Homo sapiens: one gene and its partners. The protein of the gene in region 1 interacts with the protein of each later gene in a biochemical or structural test. Each region holds a gene or a part of one and is shown in the gene's direction. Other genes may lie near its edges.

What was found.
Region 2: the proteins of WWP1 (region 1) and WBP1 interact in a test that uses a peptide from one of them, tested with the Homo sapiens proteins (one study listed by BioGRID).
Region 3: the proteins of WWP1 (region 1) and RUNX1 form a complex in vitro, tested with the Homo sapiens proteins (one study listed by BioGRID).
Region 4: the proteins of WWP1 (region 1) and ARRDC2 form a complex in vitro, tested with the Homo sapiens proteins (one study listed by BioGRID).

The regions. Positions count from the first base shown.
Region 1 is NC_000008.11:86,337,725-86,345,567, forward strand, and holds the start of WWP1 (NEDD4-like E3 ubiquitin-protein ligase WWP1), read left to right. Parts: upstream 1-4,822; 5' UTR 4,823-5,206; exon of another isoform or gene 5,207-5,552; intron 5,553-5,865; exon of another isoform or gene 5,866-5,936; intron 5,937-6,548; exon of another isoform or gene 6,549-6,710; intron 6,711-7,843. UniProt on the Homo sapiens protein: E3 ubiquitin-protein ligase which accepts ubiquitin from an E2 ubiquitin-conjugating enzyme in the form of a thioester and then directly transfers the ubiquitin to targeted substrates.
Region 2 is NC_000002.12:74,453,837-74,461,390, forward strand, and holds WBP1 (WW domain-binding protein 1), read left to right. Parts: upstream 1-4,601; 5' UTR 4,602-4,766; coding exon 4,767-4,835; intron 4,836-5,806; coding exon 5,807-5,909; intron 5,910-6,036; coding exon 6,037-6,213; intron 6,214-6,384; coding exon 6,385-6,845; 3' UTR 6,846-7,045; downstream 7,046-7,554. Other genes in the region: INO80B (INO80 complex subunit B), read left to right, coding at 1,281-1,338, 1,570-1,762, 1,982-2,100, 2,267-2,436, 3,498-4,028; MOGS (mannosyl-oligosaccharide glucosidase), read right to left, coding at 7,439-7,554.
Region 3 is NC_000021.9:35,046,277-35,053,492, reverse strand, and holds the start of RUNX1 (runt-related transcription factor 1), read left to right. Parts: upstream 1-4,190; 5' UTR 4,191-4,325; exon of another isoform or gene 4,326-4,534; 5' UTR 4,535-4,593; coding exon 4,594-4,651; intron 4,652-7,216.
Region 4 is NC_000019.10:18,011,170-18,014,634, forward strand, and holds the end of ARRDC2 (arrestin domain-containing protein 2), read left to right. Parts: intron 1-1,743; coding exon 1,744-1,797; 3' UTR 1,798-2,933; downstream 2,934-3,465.

The DNA.
Region 1 (7,843 bases):
TGAGTAATGGAAGTGAAGCAAACCCCACCTCTTTCACAAGTACAGGTGAAATAGGAAACTTTTAAAGTGCAAGGGAAAATAGGTTGGGGCAGTTTCTCAGCTTCAGCATTAATGCCATTTGGACCTGATCATTCCTTGTTTTTTGAGTGGAGTGATGGGGCTGTCTTGTGCACTGTAGGATGTTTAGCACCCTCTGTCACATCTACCCACTAGATGCCAATGGAACATCCAACCTACCCCCATGAAAAATGTCGTAAGCCATTGCCAAAATCCCCTGGGATATGAAATGGTCCCAAGTTGAGAACAACAGGATTAGTGTATTTGTTATCTATTTCTGGATAGATATAAATTATCTCCCAAATTTAGTGACTTAAAACAATAAGCACTTATTTTACCGCTATAGTTTCTATGGGTTAAGCATTTGAGAGTAACTGAGTTGGGTGGTTCTGGTTCAAGGTCTTTGATGAGGCTGCAGTCAAGACGCAATCATCTGAAGGCTTGACTTAGGCTGAAGGATCCACTTCTAAGATGTCTCACTCACGTGGTGATGGCAGCAGGCCTCAGACTCTGGTGGTTGTTGGCAGGATGTCTCAGTTCCTTGCCATGTGGGTCTCTACACAGGGCAGCTTCCTGTGTCTTTGCCATATGGCAACTGAGAATGATCTGAAAGAGAGTGGGAGGGGCTCCATGATGCCTTTTTATGGCCTGGTCTTGGAAGTGACACACTGTCACTTTTGCTATATCTGTTAACAACAAGTCACTAATTACAGCCTACATTCCTTTTGGAAGAGAATTAGGCCTCACTGGTTTATTTTTTTTTAATTTTATTTATTTATTTTTTTTTGAGAGGGAGTCTTGCTCTGTTGCCTAGGATGGAGTGAAGTGGTGCCATCTTGGCTCACTGCAACCTCTGCCTCCTGGTTTTTTGTTTTTATTATTTTTGAGACAGAGTCTTGCTCTCACTCTGTTACCCAGGCTGGAGTGCAATCATGATGCACTCATGACTCACTGCAGCCTTGACTTCCTGGGCTCAAGTGACCCTCCCACCTCAGCCTCCAGAGTAGCTGGGATTACAGGTGCACACCACCATGCCCAGATAAGTTTTTGATTTTTAGTAGAGATGAGGTCTCACTACGTTGTCCATGCTGGTCTCGAACCCCTGGGCTCAAGCAATCTTCTCACATTGGCCTCCCAAAGTCCTGGGATTACAGGCATGAACCACTGTGCCTGGCTAGGCTTCACTTTCTGAGGGCAGAAGTATCAAAATATTTGTAGACATATTTTATTAAGAAATTTAAAAAAATTATTCTTGGAAATATAATACAGACAGGGTGTATTAGTCTGTTCTCATGCTGCTAATAGAGACATACTTGAGACTGGGTAATTTATAAAGGAAAGAGGTTTAATTGACTCATAGTTCAGCATGGCTGGGGAGGCCTCAGGAAACTTACAATCATGGCAGAAGGGGAGGCAAGCACAACCTTCTTCACATGGTGGCAGCAAGGAGAAGTGCTGAGCAAAAGGGGGAAAAGCCCCTTATAAAACCATCAGATCTTGTGAGAACTCACTCACTATCACCAGAACAGCATGAGAGTAACCGCCCCCATGATTAAATTACCTGACACTGGGTCCCTCCCACAACACGTGGATATTATGGGAACTACAATTCAAGACGAGATTAGGGTTAGGGATGGTGGCTCATGCCTGTAATCACAGCACTTTGGGAGGTCGAGGCAGGAGGGTCACTTGAGATCAGGAGTTCAAGATCAGCCTGGCCAACATGGTGAAACCCCGTCTCTACTAAAAATTAAAAAAAAAATTAGCTAGGTGTGGTAGCATGTGCCTGTAATCCCAACTACTCGGGAGGCTGAGGCAAGAGAATCACTTGAACCCAGGAGTGGAGGTTGCAGTGAGCCAAGATCACACCACTGCACTCCAGCCTGGATGACAGAGCAATACTCCATCTCAAAAAAAAAAAAAAAAAGATGAGATTTGCGTGGGGACACAGCCAAACCATATCACAGGGTTTGTCATGTTGGTCAGGCCGGTATCAAACACCTGGCCTTAAGTGATCCACCTGCTTTGGGCTCTCAAAGTGTTGGGATTACAGGTGTGAGCCACAGTGCCCGGCCTGTAGACCTATTTTAAAACCACTACAGTTAGAGAACAATTTTTTAAACAAATGGTTTGGGGGAATACCATGAGCTATTTTTAAAGGAATAAAAGTTAGATTATCATTGCAAAATAAATCCAAGAAAATTAAATTATTTAATGAAAAAAGTAAAATAGTCAAACAAGTAGAAAAAAGTAAAGACAGATGAATTATATGATCTCAGGATGGGAAAGATGTATGAAGTAAAAAACAATGGAAGAATACAAAAATGGAAAAGATCAATAGTTTTACAAAGGACTAATATCTACATTGTGTGAAGCACCCTTTTGTGAAATACCTCAGTAAGAAAATGGACAAAGGACAAACAATAAGCTACCATACATACACATATGAAAACATACCATGATGATTTGGGCACATGGAAGAAGGACAATCACATACTGTCATGTAGTGTTGTGGGAAAATTGATAACCATTATGACAATCATTTCTTGATTATGTGCCATGCTCATGTGTTAAGTAGCTCTATGCGTGTTATTTATAGCAATTTATATATATTTTTTAATACAACATGTGGAAGCACTATATTAATTTTCTAGTTGAGACACAATTAGATTAAGCAATTGGCCAAATCTCTCAGCTCATAGGCAGCAGGAGGGTCAGGTTATCCATTAGGCACAGTAGACACAGTGCCTCAGGCTTATAACACTTTCGGGGGCCCATAAAAATGTTTTAATTTCTTTTAAAATCAGAAGGCAAAAAATTGAATATTTAGGTCAAAGAAAATATTTTAATGTATAATGTTAATATCTTTTTCTTCATACCAATGCAGTAATAAAATATATTTTGTAGTATTATTTTATGGAAGATGAGGCCCACACAGGTATAAGCACCTAGGGCCTGTGAAAGTCAGAATGTGGCACTGGGTGGCAGAGCTGTGTTTTGATGCTGGGCGATGTGATACCTGAGCCTATGCTCTTTCTGGAAGGTAGTTGCCAATATGTTTCAAAAGGGCTAAACTTGTTCATACTTTTTTATTACTTTTAATAATTTATCTAAGACAGTTAATAAGGACATGAACAATGGTTATGGAATACTATTTATAATATTGTTCATTTGAAACCAAACAGTCAATAACAAAAGGCTGGTTCAATATTGGGTGTCAGCTTGAGGACTAGGTGAGTACTAAGAGCTTCTGAACGGGGAGGAAATTGAGCAATGAGGGGAGCTGAAAGTGAGACACAGAGCAGGAAGAGGAGGCCTGCATGCATTCTGGAGAAGGAGTCCAGATCCCTGCTGGGGAATACCTACGGAATTTCTGAGGACGTGTTTGTAAGCACATTATTGCATCTATTTAAAGGGACCAGACAGCAAAAGCAAAAAGATGAAGAAAATCTTAGTACATGTTTAAAGCAGAGATGAGTGGGCACATATGGGGCACTGTGAAGAGTTTTTCATAACAGGAGAGATAGAGCATGTGAGCATCAAAGGAACCTTGAATATCACGTTAATCTTTGTCAGGAGAGCTCCGAAAAGCCAAAGAATGATTTTAAGCAGTGGAATGACACAGATGTATATTTTCGAATGATCTTTGTGGATATAATGTGCACCAATTTCAACTATGAAGCCAGAGGACAAGAACTAATGCATGGAGGTAGGCGGGAATGTGCATTGTTCAGTCAAGAGATACTTGTTGAATTCTGTACACACTCATGAAGTGTTGGGGTTGTTTTTGGTACACAGTTCTTTCAAAAAGCTCAGTTAAAATGGAAGGGGAGAGAGAACCAGAGGTTTTAAAATCAAGGGAAAATTTAGGACCTAATCTTAAAACGTGATTATGCTGAGGAGTTGTAGGCAGTGGAGAGGGTGAAGTTAAAGATGTGCCAAGGACCGCCCACAGTGGGGAGCAGGCAGTGGAGAGGAGCAGGGACATCTAGCCTCCGAGATAGAAGGAAAACTAGTAAGTCTGGGTGTGGACGTAGATATAATCTATGGGGGTTGGTCAGGTGGTTGGGCAAAAGCTGTAGAAATCCATGCCTGAAGGCTTCTGCTTCTCTGAAGTAGAAACCGGGTCACCTGGTAAGCAATGTGGTCCCACTGACTTCTATTTGCACATTGGCCTTTCTTCTAAAAGCAATACACATAACCAACAGTACTTTTCTAAACTAGTTGACTTTTCTGTAAAATGCAGACAGTAGACACTACTTTGTCAGATTGTTGTGTGCGTTAATTGTGCGGACACGTATACTCGGTCAATAAGTATCTGCTTTATCACCGGGCTGATGTGAGTGAGGACTAGGTGGTGGGGCTTCCACAGATGAACGTTTTGATTAATAAAAAATGGACTGAAAGTCTTCGGGTATGACCAATGGCTAAATGCAATTATTTACTCTTGCAATGTGTTCGAGGTCACCCAGCTAGGTCAAGGAGTATTTATGGACAGCCTACTTTTGCCCCCGGACCTTAAGAAGTCCTGCTCCGGGATCAGCCGCCGACCGGAAAGTCAAATTAGCAGTGCCCAGCGCGAGCTTAGAGCAGCCTCTTCCCAAATCTCAGCGGCGGCCCCGCCCCTTCCACACGTTCAGGCCCCGCCCCTCCCTACTATTGGCTGTCCGTCCCCCTCCGCTAGACTGCTCGGAAGACCCGGAGGAGCGGAGTTTTCCTAAGGCAGCATCCGAGCGCCCTCGCTGCGCATGCTCGGGGGAGGCGGATTCCGGGTCCGGAGTTGGAGGCTTTGGGCGGCCGCGGCGTAGCGCGCGGTGCCGGGGCCGGCGGGGAGGCGCGCGCTTAGGGCGCGGCGCCGGCGACGCGGCCACGCGGCGCGCTCCCGAGGAAGGGAGGTGTGGGGTCGGCTGGGGGTGGCGCGTGGACGGGGTGGGGGTGGGGGGAGGGTCGGGTGTCGGCGAGCTCCGCGTGCGGGTTCCGAGTGGCTGCTGGCGGCCTGGGCTGCCGGGGCCGACGCCTGGGTGGCTGCTGCCGCCGCGCCTGCTGCGAGATGGCGATCTTGGGCGCGGAAGGGTGAGGGCGCCCGCCGCAGGAGGAGGTGCCGCTGCCGTGGCCGCCCGGCTGCCGGGAGCCGACAGCTTCGCGCCGGGTAAGGACGGCGCGGCGCGGGGCTGGGGGTGCGAATGGGCAGGGCGGGAGGGGGCACGGGCCCTGAGCCTTGGCCGCGGTGCTGGGCGCCCGGCGCCGTCCGCCCCCGGGCTGGACCCTCCTAGGACCCGTCGGGGGACGGTCCGCCCTACCTTGGCTACCTTCTCCAGCCCGGGAGTCGGGAGTTTTCTGGGGTGGGGTCACGGGTCTTGCCCGGAGTTCGCCCTGGCAAAGGCCTGTGCCAGTGATCCTGGAGCGGAGCGAAGTGTTTCCGTGACTCTGCAGCCGCAGTTCTTAGGCTTCCTTAGCCTTCTCTTCGCCTTCCTCCACCTTTCCCTAACACCTCCCTGAAAACACAAATACATGGACTCATTGCCCGTTCCCTGACTTTCACCCCAATTTCAGCGTTGCAAACCAAGGACTCCAGCTTTGGAACGTCTTTTTCTGACATGTTTTTATCACTCTCCGTTCTTCACCGACTCTGCAGCTCCCCATCCCCCGCCCCCCCAGCGCAACCCCCACCTCCACCTTTTGTGACCTGGTAGGTTCCAGTGACCTTGCAGATTTTACCAGTCCTTATCTTGTCTGTGACTTACAGACTCTCCTTTCATCTTCGTGTTCTTTTTTTAAAAAAATTTAATTTTGTAGTTTGCTCCTTACCTTTACGACCTTTAAATGATCAGTCTTGTTCACAGTCCTTTCTTTGCTCTGCCGATTTGGAGTTTTCTCTGCTGTGGTAAATATATGAAACCTTCATTACCAAAGAAGAGTAGTGTCTGTTATAATTTTGACATTTTTACTCTTTCAGAATAAAATATTTTCCAGGGGCTTGATTTTGCCTTCTTTTTCTATTTGATAAGTTTAACAAATTTTTTTCTGTGTGTGTGTAGGTTAATGTGGAACAAGATTTTGTGTTTCTGCTTTAAAATGTTACTGGTAATAGTAGTGGGAAAAAAAATCATGTCCAAAATTATCTTTGTTTTCCCCGTTTGGTGTTTTTACCTGAAATAGTTGGTTTACAGTTACCTGCATTTTTTTTTTTTAACAAGAGTTCATGTTTATGTGTAAATCCACTTTACCTGCCTCACCAAATCTGTGTGTATTATACAAGCAAAATGCACCTTTTAAAGAAGAAAGTCGTTCTTTTATTGTGTGACTTGTTTTTAGCCATCAAGTAGTAAATTAGCTGCAACTAGAAATGATCATTTTTCATAAATGGTTAGTATTTTAAAAAATGGAAAGTGTAGTGGCCAAGTATTGGGAGCTACTCAGATTGAGAATTGTAAAGTATGTGGAATAGTTCTTTGGGACATAGCTTATCAACATTTTCAGATAGTTCTTACCTTAAAATGTGAAACTGCTGGTAAGATCTACATCAGGGTTTTGAAAAGCAATAATTATGAGCTACCGGCATAATACAGGATGTCGCAGATAAAGTTTCTGCCTTCAAAGAGATGGTAATCTTTGCTGTTTACCCCACGGTGGCTGAAATTTCCTTTACTTCCTTGTACAGTTGTTAAGCATTTACTGCATAATTGTGGGAGGTATTTTGGGAAATACAAAGATGAACCGATTAGCAATTTCTGCCTTCACACTAATTAGGTAGATAGTGCTATACACAAATGCCTTATTTGTCTTTTAATATATAAGTTTCATAAATGGTACCAAAATCCTCTCAGAAGTCAACTTCAAAGAGAGTAGAGCTCAGATCTTACTTGGCAAGGTAGGGATAAGAGGGTTAGTTTGTAGAGCTCCTGGCTTCTGAAATCGTGGTTTTGAAGGACGATTATGACTTTGGATAGGCAGGAAAGGTAATCCTAGCAGAGAGGTATCTCTAAGAGAGCACAGAGTTCCTGTTTGGGGAAAGGCAGGTAATTATGTTTGGGTGGAACATAAACTTATTTGTACCAGGATAAAGGGTGATAAAACTTGAAGTAAAAATTTGGACCAGTTTATGGGTTGTTTTTAATGCCAGACTTATGACCTTGGATTTACCCGGTGGTGGGGCTTCCACAGATGATTTTGAATTGGGAGTGAAACAATTTGAACACTTTGTTTCAGAAGGATTAGTGGGATAGAGGTCTGTAGTGTGAACTGAGGTAGGGAGACCCTGGAGGTAGAAAGACCTCCCAGTTGTTGTAGTCATGGATAGTGAGGATCTGAGCTGTGGTGCACGCGAATGGAAAGGAAGAAAGGAAGTCGAATAGCCAAAATTTGATGAGAGGGCAAATGAAAGTAAAAATAACTGATTCTGATCCAGGTTGGTTGGGAGAACAGTGGTACCATTTTGAGCAAGATCATGAAGCTTTACCCTCAGCATATGTGTGCTACTTTACAACTTTTTGGAGATTACTAATTCTTGGTAAAATGCTGGCCTGGAAAATTTCCATATGCGCCTATGCTTTGTGGATATAATTTTAGGGGAGTCCATGGAACACCTGAAAGTCATCCATGACACTCATCTCAGAATTTCTTGGAGCTTTTTTTATTTTCGAGGCAGGATTTCTTTCACTCCTGTCCCTGTGGCTGGAGTGCAGTGGCGCCTTCTGGGCTCATTGCAACCTCCGCCTCCCAGGCTCAAGAGATTCTCCTGCCTCAGTCTCCCGAATAGCTTGAACTACAGGCGCTTGCCACCACA
Region 2 (7,554 bases), on another chromosome or scaffold:
ATACATTACATACCTAAATAGTGAAAGTTCCTCAACCCCAACTTCTACAGTTAACCAACATTAACAGGTATACATTCCTCAATTTTTTCTATGTATTTGCTAGTATATTATGCTTTTAAAAATCAGATCACATAATCTTGAAATTTACTTTTTTTTTTTTTTCTTTTTTTTGAGACGGAGTCCCGCTCTGTCGACCAGGCTGGAGTGCAGTGGCGCGATCTCGGCTCACTGCGACCTCCACCTCCCGGGTTCAAGCGATTCTCCTGCCTCAGCCTCCCGAGTAGCTGGGACTACAGGCGCGTGCCATCACGCCGGCTAATTTTTTTTTTTTTTTTTGTATTTTTAGTAGAGACGGGGTTTCATCGTATTAGCCAGGATGGGAAATTTACTTTTCTTATTTCGTGTATCAGCACATACAAACCTACCTGTTTTTATGTCTTTTTTAAAATGAGGTAAAATATACACGTTTTATACAAAATTCAAAAGGCACAAGAGGGTATAATCATAAAAAAATAGGTCGCCATCCACCCTTGTTCTCTAGATGCTCATCAGCAAATGACTCTTACCAATTTCCTAGATAGCCTTCTGGGGCGCCTCATTTCTTTTCCAAGCTGCTTAACATCCCACTGTATGGATACACCAATTCATCAGGACACTTAGATTGTTTAAATTCTGTGTCAATCTCATTAATTACTTACAACTCAACTTTTCTTAGCAATATGGTGTTCCGCATTGTACAGCTGCACCGTAATTCATTTATTCATTTCCCTACTTATGAAAATTGAAGTTTAAATACCTAAACTGCATCTGCTCTTAGGGCACTCGTGCTGTTTAACCATTTCGGCCATTTTGTCATCAATATAGTTTATGTATTCCTCCACCCAACTGTGAGTTCCTCAAGGACAGGGGCGGTGTTCATATTCATCTTTGCATCCTCTTAGACTAGCTTCCCGCACTTGGTCTAGTGTATACATTCACCAAACTTGTGTTCAATAATTGACTCATCCGCGCTGAGTTCTGAAAGCTAGCGTGGGGAGGCGGAGCCAGGGGAAAGCCCTGCCCATTTGGGCTGTCCCGACCTCAGAGGGACCGGAACGTTCGTTGGAAGGATCCTCGTTTCTCAGGGACGATTTTGGACGCGAAGCGTGCCCCGCACAAGGATGGTTGCCATGAACCGGAAGTAACTGGTTGTTTTGCTGGCTCCAGTTTTTCCGCGGGGCGGAAAAGGCGTGTCTGCGTGTGTCCCAACCATTTCTAGTCCCCTTTCCTCGCAGGACCTCATGAGTAAGCTGTGGCGGCGTGGGAGCACCTCTGGGGCTATGGAGGCCCCTGAGCCGGGTAAGCGCGAATAGATCAAGCAATTTAGGTCGTGTTAGAAAAGAAGTCCCGTTCTTGCTCCTCGGAGAGTCCAGGGTACTTCGGCCACAGGTGGCAAGGAGAAAGGCGGTGCTGTTGTTATGGTAACAGCGAGTACTGCGGGAAGGGTGGGATCCAGTAGGGGCTTAGGTTATTCAGGGCTTCCCCTGCCACCCTCCGGCCAAACACTGTCGACAGGCTTTCCTTCCACAGGAGAAGCCCTGGAGTTGAGCCTGGCGGGTGCCCATGGCCATGGAGTGCACAAGAAAAAACACAAGAAGCACAAGAAGAAACACAAGAAGAAACACCATCAGGAAGAAGACGCCGGGCCCACGCAGCCGTCCCCTGCCAAGCCTCAGCTCAAACTCAAAATCAAGCTTGGGGGACAAGTCCTGGGGACCAAGAGGTGAGGCCAAGAGGGTCATAGTTTTATAAGGGGAACTTTAGGAGCAGAGATAGTAGTTAGAAGCCGACTGGGCTTTCTAGAAGACCGAATGGACACTGTGACTTCAGGGTCCAGATTTAGGCAGCAAGAGTCTAAGAGGGTGGGGAAAGTTGGGTGTAGCTACGGAGTAGGAGGAGGAGACGCTTGCTCATTTTAAAGAGTAGTGTTGCTTCTCTGCAGTGTTCCTACCTTCACTGTGATCCCAGAGGGGCCTCGCTCACCCTCTCCCCTTATGGTTGTGGATAATGAAGAGGAACCTATGGAAGGAGTCCCCCTTGAGCAGTACCGTGCCTGGCTGGGTGAGGATCTGGAGGTGGGGAAACTGGGTTTCTTATTATACCCGCCTAAAGAAAGAAGGTTGGTTCTGAAATGGGTTAGGATTTTCCATGTCCCAGTATTAACTCAGCCAAATTAGGGTGCCCCATCTGAACAATTCTGTTTTTCTTTCTCCAACTTCCTTCCCAGATGAAGACAGTAATCTCTCTCCCTCTCCACTTCGGGACCTATCAGGAGGGTTAGGGGGTCAGGAGGAAGAGGAGGAACAGAGGTGGCTGGATGCCCTGGAGAAGGGGGAGCTGGATGACAATGGAGACCTCAAGAAGGAGATCAATGAGCGGCTGCTTACTGCTCGACAGGTATGTTGGTTCATTGTTTATTCACTCACCAAATGTATACAGTATTGAGAACTCTCCACGACCCACGCACTTTGCGTGGCATTGGGGATATCGATAGTAGAGAAAAGACAAAGTTTCTGTTCTCCTGGAGCTAGTATTCTAGTGTGTGTGTTGGGGGGCTGGGAAGTAAATAAGTAAATAATTTCAAAAAGCTATATGGTTTATGACAAAAAGAAAAGGGTGATGAAATAGAAAGTGGCGTAAACAAACAGATAGAAATGATGGAAGAGAGACATTAGGGTAGTTAGAGAAGGCTTCTTTGAAGAGATAACATTTGCAATACCAGAAGAGCTTTTGAGCAGAGACCAGCAGGCGCACAGACCTTGAGACTGGAACATGTCTAGCAAAGGAGAAGAAAAAGTGGACAAGCCACTGAAGGGCTGTACGCAGAGAAGTGACATACTTGGTTTACATTTCAATAGATTACTTTGGCATCTTTGTAGAGAATGAATCTTCGTGGAGACAAGAGATAGAAGTATGGAGAACAACTAGGAAGCTGTTGAAGTAATCAGCTGAGAGGCAGTGGTTGCTTTAACCAAGACGAAAGTGGTGGAGATGGAGAAAATCAGATGAATTATGGCTATATTTTGGAAGTAGATACTTGTGGGGAGGGGAATGGAGAGAAAATATATCAAGGCTAAGCCTGGGATTTTGGCTTGAGCAGTTATCCACCTGATACTCTCTATTGAGATAAGATTAAAAATAACAACAGACCTCTGGGAAAGCTGGTACAGTTTTGGTGCACAGGTCAGGCAGGTAACATTACTGATGCTTCTCCCCTTGAGAGATAAGGACCTAAAGCTAAATGTCAGGAGATCTGGGAGGAGGCAGTATTTATGAAGAGGAACCTATGGAAGGTGTCCTGGAGAGGGTGCTCATTAATTAATATCCCGCCTCCGAAGGCCTGCACTGCTCAAGACCCTGCCTTCCATGTCCCTTCTTTCCCCTCCCCCGATCTGGCCGACCTCGCCTCTCCATCTTCCTCCATTTTCAGACAGCACCCCGTCTCTGTCTCTCCCTAGCGAGCTCTGCTCCAGAAGGCGCGGAGTCAACCTTCCCCTATGCTGCCGCTGCCTGTAGCTGAGGGCTGCCCACCTCCCGCCCTCACAGAGGAGATGCTGCTGAAGCGCGAGGAGCGGGCGCGGAAGCGGCGGCTCCAGGCGGCGCGGCGGGCAGAAGAGCACAAGAACCAGACTATCGAGCGCCTCACCAAGACTGCGGCGACCAGTGGGCGGGGAGGCCGGGGGGGCGCACGGGGCGAGCGGCGGGGAGGGCGGGCTGCGGCTCCGGCCCCCATGGTGCGCTACTGCAGCGGAGCACAGGGTTCCACCCTTTCCTTCCCACCTGGCGTCCCCGCCCCCACGGCAGTGTCTCAGCGGCCATCCCCCTCAGGCCCGCCGCCGCGCTGCTCTGTCCCCGGCTGTCCCCATCCGCGCCGCTACGCTTGCTCCCGCACAGGCCAGGCACTCTGTAGTCTTCAGTGCTACCGCATCAACCTGCAGATGCGGCTGGGGGGGCCCGAGGGTCCTGGATCCCCCCTTTTGGCTACGTAAGGCCCTTAACCCGGACTCTGCGCCCCGTCCCATGCCCGCTCTTGAGTATCTTCCCCACCCTATTAAATTACATCCGGTGCTTCGGCTTGTACAGAACTGGGGGAGTGGGATGTTGTGGGCAGACCAGTCTCCGGTATACACGTATTTTGCCCCTGTCGGAGCTTGCGTCGATGCCTGGGGCTTGGAAACCACCGCAAAAAACCAGGCTGCAAACCAGCGGACCGACTTTTGGGACTCCGCCTCTTCCAGCCGGGATTACCTGGCGTGCTTCGGCCTTTGGCGTCATTCCGAAAACATACCGCAAGCCAATCAGCGGCAACCTTGCTCTTCGGGGCGGCTGTTCGTTGGTTGATATGCCAGAGCCTGTTCTGTTGTCTGTATTGGCTATTGCCGCTGTCAGTCAGGGCCGTGGGTCGAACCTTCACCTACTCTTTGTCTGTACAAGCTCTTGTTGTCTGGGTGAGCGGCGGAGGCGCTGCTGTGGATTGGTCACAGGGAGAAACCTCTGATCTGTTCCTATTGGCCCGTCCGTCAAGGGACGATGATGATTGGTAGGGCAGAGCAATCTGAGTCCTAGTTGGTGGAGTTCTGCCCGGATGGAAGCTCCGGCCGCGGAGTGATGGTGGCCTCAGCGAAGATGGGCCGGGCAGGGACCATGGCGGTGGCAGCAGAGGTGGCAGGGGCGGGGCGGCTGGCGGTAGAGGAGGCTGTGGTCCTCAGGGGGCTGTAGGTGGAGGTATGGCTCGGGCCAGCAGCGGGAACGGCAGCGAGGAGGCCTGGGGGGCACTTCGGGCGCCGCAACAGCAGGTATCCCAATAGCTCCAAAACCTATCACGACAGCCATTTGTCTCTTTCCCCTTTCCTTGTCCCTTCCTTTTGGGGGTGGGGGAGGAACTCACGGAGCCAAAGGTACTGTGAAGTTCCTAAACATGTCTCTTCCACTCTTTGTCTAAACTTTGTAACGTAGATGCAGCTGACTTTGCCTGTAGCCTCATAGAACCCATCCCATGGCTGCAGTGGAAGCTTGCGGTGGCTCTCCAGTGACCAGAGGCATAGTGAGGTCCCAGGGAGGCTCCCTCTGTCTTGCAACAGTTATTTGTGATCTTTTTCTATGTGCCTATTGTCACAACAGAGTCCGGCAGCGTCTTCTCTTGAGGGAGCAATTTGGAGAAGAGCTGGAACCCAGACTCGCGCCCTGGATGCCATCCTTTATCATCCACAGCAATCCCATCTGGTTGGGAGCACTGCTCTGGGTCTCACACTGCCCCTCCTCTATCCTAGGGAGCCTGAGGCCCAGGGGTGGAAAGATCCAGTTGCGGGTGGGGGGTAGTGAACCGCGCAGGATAATGAAAGCAACTTGCTTTGGAAATGACCTACCGCTACCCGTTGTCTGAGACTGAGATTATCTCAGACTGTCTTCTGGCTTCTGCCAAAACACTCCCTTAACAGAAAGCACCGAGGGGATGGGGGTAGGGGGGTTGGGGAGAGTGAGGCTTGAGTGTGAAGGAAGTCTCATATATGCAGAGCTGAAATCTCCCTCTTTGTATGTCCACACTTTTGTCTTGTTCTCTAGACTGATTCTTGCTATTCCAAATCCTCTTCCACGTTGACAGCCCTTCAGATATTTCAACACTCCTCTCAGCATCCTCCACTTCCCCCATCTCTCCAAGCTGAACTTGGTTCACAGGGTGGGATTGTGTATGTGCATGCAGGAGGTGGGGGTGGACAGTGCCCTGGGCTGGAATCCCCCTTAGTTCTAAGTGCCTCCTTGCCCGCAGCTTCGAGAGCTGTGCCCAGGAGTGAACAACCAGCCCTACCTCTGTGAGAGTGGTCACTGCTGCGGGGAGACTGGCTGCTGCACCTACTACTATGAGCTCTGGTGTAAGTCTCCAAGAGGGCTATTTCCAGGTCCCTGTGTCCACCCTCCCTTGGACCTCAGAATTTCGGCCTTCAGGGCCCCTTCTCTGCATGAAAGATGCCTGAGTTGCTCCCTCCTTGCCTCTTGCAGGGTTCTGGCTGCTCTGGACTGTCCTCATCCTCTTTAGCTGCTGTTGCGCCTTCCGCCACCGACGAGCTAAACTCAGGCTGCAACAACAGCAGCGGCAGCGTGAAATCAACTTGTTGGCCTATCATGGGGCATGCCATGGGGCTGGTCCTTTCCCTACCGGTTCACTGCTTGACCTTCGTGAGTGACTTGATGCCCTGGGTCAGCTACCAGTGGCCCTCCCCAAACCAGAACCCCAAATCGTCTCACATTCCCTTTTCCACACATTTCAAAGTATTTTTCCCTAATATAAAAACTAGCACCCTATACCTGGTTGTCTTCAACCAATCATGCCAATTTTCTCCCCTGCAGGCTTCCTCAGCACCTTCAAGCCCCCAGCCTACGAGGATGTGGTTCACCGCCCAGGCACACCACCCCCCCCTTATACTGTGGCCCCAGGCCGCCCCTTGACTGCTTCCAGTGAACAAACCTGCTGTTCCTCCTCATCCAGCTGCCCTGCCCACTTTGAAGGAACAAATGTGGAAGGTGTTTCCTCCCACCAGAGTGCCCCCCCTCATCAGGAGGGTGAGCCCGGGGCAGGGGTGACCCCTGCCTCCACACCCCCCTCCTGCCGCTATCGCCGTTTAACTGGCGACTCCGGTATTGAGCTCTGCCCTTGTCCTGCCTCCGGTGAGGGTGAGCCAGTCAAGGAGGTGAGGGTTAGTGCCACCCTGCCAGATCTGGAGGACTACTCCCCGTGTGCACTACCCCCAGAGTCTGTACCGCAGATCTTTCCCATGGGGCTGTCTTCCAGTGAAGGGGACATCCCATAAGTAGTTTTGAGAGGGTGGATGGGTTACTTGCCCACCAGAAACAGCCCTAGTCCCAACTCCTTGCGTTCCTTTGGCCCCTCCCTGCCTACCTAGAATCTGCCTGAAAGGGCTGGAGAGGGGCAGTATTGGGGGACTGTGCTAGCTTTACCCCCGCAGGACATACACAGGAGCCTTTGATCTCATTAAAGAGATGTGAACCAGCTACTTGTGGATTTGGGTGGACTAAAGCTCAACTCACTGCATTGCACTTGACCTGACTGGGTTTGAAGGGGACAGGTTATGGCCACTTGACCCCACCTTCCCTGAGGACAGCAGACAGTGCTGAGGCCTGGACTGACCTAAGGCCTCTTGGTGAGGCAAATCTGGCAAAAGCAATAGAGTTCAAAATGTTTTTTCCAATTTATTTAGAAAAATAGACTCTGGATTCACATTCACCCCAGGGCTATGTGGGATGACAGCAAGGAGACACCTGAGATGAAATGAGGAAGGTTTGAATTACTGGTATCCAAGGGGCTGGGGGCAAAAGCCAGAAGCCTTTGTCCCTTCAGAGCCAGAGTGGCATGAGTGTCTTGGCTCCCCTCCTCTCCCTCCCTTCAGTAGTCTTCAGCCATGGCCAGTAAGACAAGGCTGGTCCAGCCGTGGAAAGGGCGGCAGCCCATGCCTCGCCCATCGCGGTCACTGTACTGCTCCCAAAGAAAGCCTGTAGCCT
Region 3 (7,216 bases), on another chromosome or scaffold:
CCCCCAGAGGAAAAAGCCTTCTGTTTATATACACATGGCCACCAGCTAGGCAGATGGAGCACAGGGAGAGCCTCCCTACATTGTGTGTCAAACCTCAGACTGTAAACTTGACCCAAACACGGCACTTGAGATGAGAGGTCCGAGTGACAATCCAAGAAAATGCTACCTTAGAGGACGTGGGCCTTGCCTCTTGTGGGTTTCTGCTGTCTAGAAACATCCAGGGCTTACAAAATTATGTCAGAGCAACAAAGTAGAAAAGTTTCAGAAAGCTCAAAGGAAGAAAAAGACATCTCAAAGAATGCAAACACCATGTTATTATTTCTCTACTAAATTCCAATAGATGCAAGGCTTTCCTCAGCAATGTTTCTCAAACTTTAATGTGTATAGAATCACCCGAGGAACTGTAAAAATACAGATTCTCATTCAGTAGGCCTGGGATACAGCCCGCAATGCAGAGTCTCAACAAGTTCCTGGGTGCCATCGACACTGCTCACCTGCAGTCTGCAAGCAGAGGAGGAAGCAGTTGAAACTCTTTCATTTGAAATAATTCTCCCTAGCTGCTCTTCATATCATTACATAACATTCAAGTGGCAGGTTGGTTTCAATGTCTGCCTTTTTTCTTTCTTTTTTCCTTTTGAAATCATATTTCCCCAACAATACCTCTTCATCTAGGAAAGGTTAAGAAGTAAATACTGAGGCCAGGCGCGGTGGCTCCCGCCTGTAATCCCAGCACTTTGGGAGGCCGAGGTGGGTGGATCACGAGGTCAGAAGATCAAGACCATCCTGGCTAACACGGTGAAACCCCGTCTCTACTAAAGATACAAAAAATTAGCCGGGCGTGGTGACGAGCACCTGTAGTCCCAGCTACTCGGGAGGCTGAGGCAGGAGAATGGCGTGAACCTGGGAGGCGGAGCTTGCAGTGAGCTGAGATCGCACCACTGCACTCCAGCCTGGGCGACAGAGCAAGACTGTGTCTCAAAAAAAATAAAGTCTTGGGTAGCTTAAATTTGAATTGCACCTTTATCTAAAGAAGTGAGAGGCCTGTGCGGAAGAGAGATGTGTCCTGTGTGGGCACCATCATGAGTGTCCAGGAAAGAACATCTTTAATAGCTGGGCTTCTAGGGCTCCCTAGCTGTCTCAAACCATTGGATTTGCCAAAAGCAGGTTATAGTCATCCCATGAAGCTTTGATGTCTACGTCCCAATTTAAAAATCATCCCTGACCTCACTGTCAGCATAGCATGGAAGTTTCTGGATAGGACATCTGTTAGAAAACAGATTTAGAAAATAAGGAAAATCCACGCTACATAGAGAAAATTCAGTAGCATTGTCCTCCTGGGATTTTAGACTCCATCCAATTTGGGTGGTCCATCTCTGCCTCCATTTTCTGGCCAGAGAATCTACTTTATAATAGACATGTGGAGTTCAGAGATAGCATGCGGCAATCATGTAATGAATATCCCTAACAGAGGGTGCTTTGATTGGATTGGACTGCACACAGAAGTCTATACATTAATTACAGGGTTATGCAGGTAAACATCTGTCAACCCTTTCTAGTATTTTCATAGGGCCATTAAAAAAGACACCTGAGCATTTTCTCCCCACCCCGCCCCCCCACCCATGGTGGCATTTAGAAGCTGCAGCCAATATGAGCGAGAATGAAAACTGTCATCCAATTCCTTGGCAAAGCCACAGTCCACTGCAGACTCTTGGGTACAATCCCCAAGCCAGAAACCCAGGGTCTGAGTCACTTGCAGGAACTAGGACAGAGGGTGTGGGTCAATACACAAACTTAAAGAGTCCTAAACCGTTCTAGTTAAGTTAGGATTAAGTATTTCTCCAGGCGGTTCATTGATGACAGACGTGCCCTTTTGTCTTGGGCTCCTAGGGAAGTGGTAAGGCCAAGTTCACCAGCAGCTGGCTGAGGCTTTACTTATTGTCATGACCTGGAGGGTGCCCAGAAAAGCTCCAACTGTTGCCTCACCAAGCTGCGAAGTTATGCTGCGGCTGCCGTGGCTGTTAACCCCGCCCAGGAAGGCCGTGCAGGGCCAGCGTGCAGGCCTTTGTATTCTGCCCCCTGGTGCCCTGTTGAAACCTCAGTCCCGAAGATGACAGCGTATAGTGAGGCTTCAACGAGCCCCAGCCTTAGAGTGTCTTTACACTCTAACCTGTCCTACAAAGACCCCACTGGAAGAAATAGATATCTGGCTAGAGCTAGGCCCAAAGAGAAAAGTTGAGAATTCAGGCCGTTCACTGCCTCATCCAAACCCTTCTCCTAAGCATCTGGACACCTAAGGCTAAAAGCATCTGGGGAGTTTCTAAAATTAAATCTCCCAAGGATATTCTGTATGGCCCCTTGAATTGCTAAGTCATTATTAAGTGTGAGTCGACTCTGCAGTGGCAGCTGCACATTACAGCCCTCGGCTCTTAGGGCCCTTCCAGGGAATATTAAGTGTGGGAGAGAAAAATGAACCTGGTTTGGGGTTCAACTCAGGCTTGACTTTATTAGGGAGGGTAACAACACAGGCCCATTATGTTCATTATGTTCACAGGGGATTTGCACTGAGAAGCAATATGAAACACGCATCACATTTAAAGATTCACGAGCCTCATAAAAGAGATGTAGCACTATTATTCTTTTTTAGATGTTAGCAGTGTCAACATGTGGCCAGCTAACTTCTCACAAGTGTAAGAGAAAGCGGTCTGTTGAGTTTCAATTCCTGCTTTAGTCAAAACAGGAGTAAGTAAAAATTGTGTCTGTTCCTTTTGAAAGACTTGTGCCATGGAAGCTACTATCGTTGTGGGTCTTTGTGTGTGTGAAATTAAGTGGATGAGGGAAAACCGAGGGAGTGTTGTGGGAGTTCAGCCTTTCTGAAGTGCCTGTGCTGGCTACTGCAGCTTAGAATCCAGGACTGGCATTTACAACCCATCATCACACAGGTTCTCTTGACCCTATGTGTCGAAATTTCACGTGCGCAGAGTGCTATGGCGGATGTAGGCAGAGCAGAGCCAAATGAATAAGGTAGTAAATCAGGAAAATAAGCCTTTCTTCATCTTGGAACTACAAAACAAAATGACGTTTTAGTTGTCAGCAGGTAAAGCCAGTGGGGCCGGAAAATGAAATACGTGTGACCACAGTGGTTTGCCCACTTACAAAATTATCCTGTTTTTAGCATCTTCAAACAGGCATGTCTTTCTAAGGTAGAGGACGCGCTATATAATATTCATTAGTCAGCCCCAGGAGAAGTGTCTCCTCCTGGTTCCCCTTCTATTGTGGCATCCTCATGTGCTCAAAGTGTAGTTTTACCTACAGGTGTAAATTAGCCTATTGATTTGAATTGAACTAGAGAAAGGCAATACAGGGAGCTTTCCCAAGTGACAATACAAATAAACATCTGCAGAGTAACCACTGCTTTGTCCCAAATACAGAAATTCTCTCTGCTTTGTTTTCCTTTAGCTTCCTAATTTGTGTGTGTGTGTGTGTGTGTGTGTGTGTGTGTGTGTGTGTTAAGACTGTACTATGATTTTATCTCTTTACTGAAAGAGATACATACTAAAGTTGTCCATTTAGGGGGAATAAAACCACATAATTTTGGTTTCATTAAAACAGTCCTTTTATTTCAAAAGTAAAATTCTTTCCCTTTCCCAGGCTTTAAAATACCTGTGAGTTGCCAGCCCGTTGTAGGGGTCAGACTCTCACCAAAACATTTCTTTTTATTTATTTTTCCCTTTTATAGTTTCACTTATGCCATGATAGACGTTACCAAGGACTTAACTCTCCCGGAGCTGATGCCTAGCATTTTAAATGATGGGATCCACATCCTGTCGGAGCAGCGGCTTGATGCCAGCGTTGAATTACTATTGAATAAGCAGCAATGAAATCTTTATCAAAATAATCAGTAGTTCCAAAAACCACAAATAACAACAGGAGCCGAGTTGTACTAAATCAGCAAAGACCATTGAGATATAATAAGTGACTGAGTCACTTTTTTCTACATCCCCCCCTCTTGCAAAGTCTACTCGGCTATTTTCTTGCACAGCCTGGGGGAGGGCAGGTGGAGGGAAGGAAGGGCATTGCTCAGAAAAGAAAAAAAAAAATTGACATCACTTAAGTCACATGATTGGCAAGAACCAATTGAGATGGGCTGTGGAAAGGGGAACAGTTAAATTTGTAATTTGGGTTGTGTGAAAACTTCTTTGGGCCTCATAAACAACCACAGAACCACAAGTTGGGTAGCCTGGCAGTGTCAGAAGTCTGAACCCAGCATAGTGGTCAGCAGGCAGGACGAATCACACTGAATGCAAACCACAGGGTTTCGCAGCGTGGTGAGCATCACCAACCCACAGCCAAGGCGGCGCTGGCTTTTTTTTTTTTTTTAATCTTTAACAATTTGAATATTTGTTTTTACAAAGGTGCATTTTTTAATAGGGCTTGGGGAGTCCCAGAGGTATCCAGCAGAGGGGAGAAGAAAGAGAGATGTAGGGCTAGAGGGGTGAGGCTGAAACAGTGACCTGTCTTGGTTTTCGCTCCGAAGGTAAAAGAAATCATTGAGTCCCCCGCCTTCAGAAGAGGGTGCATTTTCAGGAGGAAGCGATGGCTTCAGACAGCATATTTGAGTCATTTCCTTCGTACCCACAGTGCTTCATGAGAGGTGAGTACATGCTGGTCTTGTAATATCTACTTTTGCTCAGCTTTGCCTGTAATGAAATGGCAGCTTGTTTCACCTCGGTGCAGAGATGCCTCGGTGCCTGCCAGTTCCCTGTCTTGTTTGTGAGAGGAATTCAAACTGAGGCATATGATTACAAGTCTATTGGATTACTTACTAATCAGATGGAAGCTCTTCAGAAATGTTTTAATAAATACTTAGTTATGCTGTTGGAGTGTTCAGTCGGTGCGTGAGAACTTTGTCAAGTGCGAGTAAGTTGTGCTGGTCTTGTTTAAAGGCTTAGAGATTATGAAGCTTGCACGAAGCTCCCTGGGTTTTATTTTGCTGTCCCTTGCCCGGAATGCCTGTGTCTGAGTTATCCTTAACTCGGCATGCTGTGTGGCCCAGAATGCAGCCTGCCCTGGGGCTTAGCAGGCACATGCACAGAGCCAGCCAGGAGGGCTGGTGCCAGTGTGGGGCAGGAGGCGGAGGCTCTCAGATAGCCTTGCACCAGCCTGGGGACTTCAGGGCCAAAGTGGCAAGGCAGCTGTCTCTATAAGGCAGAGAGTACAGGAGACTGACAGACTTGGTTAGGTTAAAATCATCAGCATGGGGCTGTGCTGTGTTTTTCCTTGTAGCCTCAATGCAAAGAGACAACCAGCATCTTTCAAGAGAGAAAGGAAGCAAATTGTGGCATACCGAGGTCTCTCTGGAAAAGGGCAATAGAGAAGTTTCCCGAGTTAAGCATTCTCGCAGCTTAAGTCGTTAGATTACAGGCTTATGAATAGGAACAGCCAGGGTGGAAAACCTGTCTCCATTTTTGAAACCAGCCTCTTGAAATGGACAAAGCTGTGGTTGAGCTGTGAGTGTGTGAGTATGTGTGTGCATGTGCGTCTTGTGTATCTTTCGTGGTAAAAGAGGGCTGTGCTTAAACAAACAAAAATAATAACATAAAATGTCTCAAAGGCATTGCCGTGTGCGTCGGGGCACGCACTCTGACCAGTGCCTGCAAAGTGTATCTTGATGGTTTGGCAAAGCTGAGATGGAGTGGGCTGGGATGGGAGAATAATTAATTTTCTGGCTACAAACTCTCTTGAGCACCCAAATTGTATCTGTGACTCATTATTTATTCATACAGCTAAGTGAGCAGGGGAATGCAGAGGGCTTGCCGGCCACTTTATCACAGCAAATGCTATTGTGAATGCACGGGGCTGTATGTTTCCGGGTCCCTGAAATTAAAAAACTTGATGAGAGAGAGAGAGAGAGAGAGAGAGAGAGAGAGAGAGTGTGTGTGTGTGTGTGTGTGTGTGTGTGTGTGTGTGTGTGTGTGTGTTGGAGATGGCAAGAGAGAAGTTAAAGAGAAAGAGAAGAAAACAAGTCATTAACCAAGCTCAAGTTTCAAATTAAAGAGTTTTCAAGTGCTTCTTTACTGGCAGCAGAGGGAATTTTAGTGAAGTTGAATCATGCAGACGTGCGTTAGTCACTAGTCTTGCAGCGTCGTTTGGTTGGTAACACAGAGACACCGGCCACTGGTGAAAAGCTGCAAACGGCTCCCTGGCTGCATTTCCTCTGGGCTGCTAACAAGCAGAGGAAGCAATATTTGTATAGAATAACAGAAAAAAAAGATCTTCCTGGCTTTACTCTGCTTTCAGTACCCCCTCAGAACGTGTATTGTTTCCTATTTTATCAACTCAGGAAGGCAGATTCAGGAAATTTTTAAGCATTCCATTGAGCAATAGGTTGGGTTTCAGTGTGCAGTGCTGGCCCCTGGGGCTCTCCTTACTGGCCAACGGCAAAGATGGTGAGGGACACGCTGAGCTATGCAGACATCAGGAAATAGCAGGAGTCTGGCTATCTCCCGGACAAGCCCAGGGCTCCTGTGCCCGATGGACACTCAGCTGACCTGCGCTAGGTTAGGAACAAGGGTCGGTTAGCTTTCACGGAGGCAGTGTAGGGAGGGCCTGAGCTCGCACCAAGACTCAAAAGGGATCATCTGGAAAGGTTTTTCCACTCCTTCCTTTCAGTGAAAGGAACTCAGGGTTCTTTAGAATCTCTAATTTGGTAATATAATATTGAGATTTGATGTCAGAGGGCCAAGTGAAATCTTGGCAATTTCCTGGTTAATTTCATCCAAGTGATCCATCAACATAAAGGTTTAAATTGTCCAGGTTAACTGTCCACATCATTCACCCAAGCCGGAGAGGTAGCAAAATATCATTTCTTTTGATACCGTTTGGTCATCATCTTAGAGCTTGATGCTAGAAGAATCACCATCCCTGCCAACAAATGGCTCTCCCCCAGAGTTCTCAGCCTGTTGCCATAGCTGGGCCACTCGCAGTGGTCAATGCGGTCACTTCTGGCTGCCTATAATTTACAGCGTGTGTTCCCTCCCCAACGGCAACTGTGAGCCGAAAGGGAAGACAGCATCTTTGTTTTCTTCCTGGGATGGTACTTTATCAGTCCATGCAATTCTCACAGAAGGAAACCTGTAACTCATTTTTAGCCAGATACCCATGTGGAAATTGGGGGGAAAGAGAGGAGTGAAGCCAAGCAAACCATTGTTCCCTTCCT
Region 4 (3,465 bases), on another chromosome or scaffold:
GTATTTTTAGTAGAGACGGGGTTTCACCATGTTGGTCAGGCTGGTCTTGAACTCCTGACCTCAGGTGATGGCCTGCCTCGGCATCCCAAAGTGCTGGGATTATATGCGTGAGCTACCACGCCCGGCCAATTTTTGTATTTTTTGTAGAAATGTGGTCTCACTGTGTTGCCCAGGCTGGTCTTGAACTCCTGGGCTCAAATGATCCTCCCATCTTGGCCTCCCCAAAGTGCTGGGATTACAGGCGTCAGCCACTGTGCCCGGCTGGCAGAGGATTTTAATTGTTGACAGAATTTCGCTACATACAGTCGGCCCTCTGCGTTAGCTGGTTTGGAATCTGCAGATTCAACCAAACATGGGTCAGAGACATTTGAAAAATAAATACATACATGGATAATACAGATTAAAAATATGATAGGCTGGGTGCGGTGGCTCATGCCTGTAATCCCAGCACTTTGAGAGGCCAAGATGGGAGGACTGCTTGAGGCCAGAAGTATAAGACCAACCTGGGTAACATAGCAAGACCCCCATCTCTACTGCAAATAATACAAAATTACCCAGGCTTGGTGGAGCCCATCTATGATTGGGAGGCTGAGGCAGGAGGATCGCTTGAGCCCAGGAGTTTGAGGCTGCAGTGAGCAATGATTGTGCTACTACATACTCCAGTCTGGGAGACAAAACAAGACCTCATCTCAATACTACTACTAATAGTAATAATGCAGTATAACAGTGATTAAATAGCATTTATATTTTGTGTGTGTATATGTGTATATATATATATATATATTTTTTTTTTTTTTTTTTTTTTGAGATGGAGTCTTGCTGTGTCACCTAGGCTGGAGTGAAGTGGCACAATCTCGGCTCACTGCAATCTCCACCTCCCGGGTTCAAGCAATTCTCCCTGTCTTAGCCTCCCGAGTAGCTGGGATTACAGGCATCCACCACCATGCCCAGCTAATTTTTGTATTTTTTAGTAGAGACGGGGTTTTGCCATGTTGGCCAGGCTGGTCTAGAATTCCTGACCTCAGGTGATCTGCCTGCCTTGACCTCCCAGAATGCTGGGATTACAGGCGTGAGCCACCACACCTGGCCATAAAGTATTATAGGTAATCTAGAAGAGATTTAAAGTACACGGGAGGGCTGGATGCAGTGGCTCATGCCTGTAATCCCAGCACTTTGGGAGGCTGAGGTGGGCAGATCACTTGAGGTCAGGAGTTTGAGACCAGCCTGGCCAACATGGCGAAACCAGGTCTCTACCAAAAATACAAAAATTAGCTGGGTGTGGTGGCATCCACCTGTGATCCCAGCTACTCACGAGGCTGAGGCAGGAGAATCGCTTGAACCCAGGAGGTAGAGGTTGCAGTGAGCCGAGATTGCGCCACTGCATTCCAGCCTGGGTGACAAAGCGAGACTCTGTCTCGAAAAATAAAATGAAATAAAAATAAAGTACACAGGAGGATGGGCTTAGATTATCCGCAAATATTATGCCATTTTATATCAGGGACCTGAGCATCTGTGGATTTTGGTATCCACGGGGTTCCTGGAACCAATCCCCTGTGGATACCAAGGGACGGTATACACTCAGCTCCAAAACCCTCCTTGCACCCCAGTCTGCCCTAGACACCACCTCCTGATGGCCTCATCCCTGGTCAAGGGCGGGAGTTGGGAGATGGCTAGATGGGGAGCGGTATTTCTGAATTTCTGTTTCCAGTGTTCTCTGAGGCTTAATGGGAACATTTCTCTTAGGAGGATCCAAACCCACTCTTGGGGGACATGAGGCCGCGCTGCATGACTTGCTGAACGGCACAGGGACCCCTCGAGGAACAAGGTTGCACACCAGCTTTCAGCCACCATGACTGTGGGGAGTGGCTGGACCAAGGGCTGACCTCCCCGACTGCATCAAAGTTGGGGAACCAAGTCTCAGAGTGAGGCGGGGGCCTTTCGGATATCACATGGGACAGAGGAAGAGCCCGGCTGGAATCTGACTTACCTGGACCGCTGTCCTTGTGAGGCATTGAATGCCCAGTGCAGTATCCGAGAGACTGTTTAATAACCTGTCTTCCCAGCCAATTGGTGGTGCTGGAATCCCCTAGGAGCCTTCAGTCTGGGAGAAACAGAGCCAGACATAGACAGTTCCAGCATCACAGAACCAGAAGAAGAGACCTGCAACTGTGAGAGTCCAGACAGGAAGCAGAGAAGGCGTCCTTGCGGAAAGGGCATTTTAGCTGAGGCTTTGGAGTACGAATAGGAGCTCAGCAGGCAGACGAATGAGGAATAAAGGTCAGAGAAGGTCAGAGCTGAGTGACGTTTGGAATCCACCCCGTTTATTGTAGAACTGGGGGTTCAGAGGGCAGGTGCCTCAGAGTTGAGGCCACACAGTGAGGTCTGGTGGGTGAAAGGACCCAGGAACGAGGCGTTCAGGAAAGCAGGTTGTCAGAGCTATGTGGAGTCTGTGGGTGGCAGGGGCAGCCGCTCCAGCCTTTGAAGACTTTGAAAGCCAGAGATTCCTGGCGCAGGCTTGGACTTCCTGGGAGCTCCTCCAAGTACCCAGGGGCATCAGAGCTGCCTGGGTGTTACATGGCCCAGGGAACCCAGGTTCAGGGTAGGACAGGCAAGACCAGATACCCAATGTGCAAAGTGAAAACACTGGGCTCCCTGTTAAACGATGAAGAATTCAAGACAGTGACAGCATTACGTCACCCCTGGGGACAGAGGTCAGCCTAAGGTGACACACGGGGACTACTGTGCTTCCGGAGGCTCCCTGTGTCCTGGAGGAGAAAAGCATTAGAGGGGGCAGCTGGACAAGCTCCCAACTGCAGAGTCCCAGCCCTGGCTGGGGCAGGGCCCCGGCCTGGGACTCAGCATTTCTGATATGCCTTAAGAATTCATTCTGTTTTGTACAATTATTTTTTAAAAGTAAACGTGTGGAGAAAGAATCCGGGCTTCTTGGTTTATTTCCGCCCCCGATCTGGCTGCTGAGGGAACTGGGACTGCCATCCCTGGTCACTATCTTGGAGACTAAATTCCTGGCCAAGGAAGGCAAAGGGGCTCATGATTGAGAAGGGGAAACTGAGGCCCAGGACTGGGAGGGGGTTGGTCCAAGGACATATGAGGAGGCTGAGCTGGGGTGGGAGCTGAGCCCTGGGCCCCATACCTGCACCGCCTATCGGAGTCTCAGAGGCTGGCGGGGGCTGAACAGTGGAGGACAAGCAGAGAACTCTATCCTCAGAGAGTGGGGAGCAGGGGGCTGGGGCTGGGAGGAGCCGCCTGAGTACGGGAACATCCTGTCATCTGAGTCTAGGTTTGGTTTTTGTGGGTTTTTTTCTGTTTGTTTTTGTTTTTCAGAAGGAGTCTTGCTGTGTCGCTCAGGCATAGTGTAGAGTGTAGTGGTGTGATCTCAGCTCACTACAACCTCCACCTCCTGGGTTCAAGCGATTCTCCTGCCTCAGCCTCCAAGTAGCTGGGATT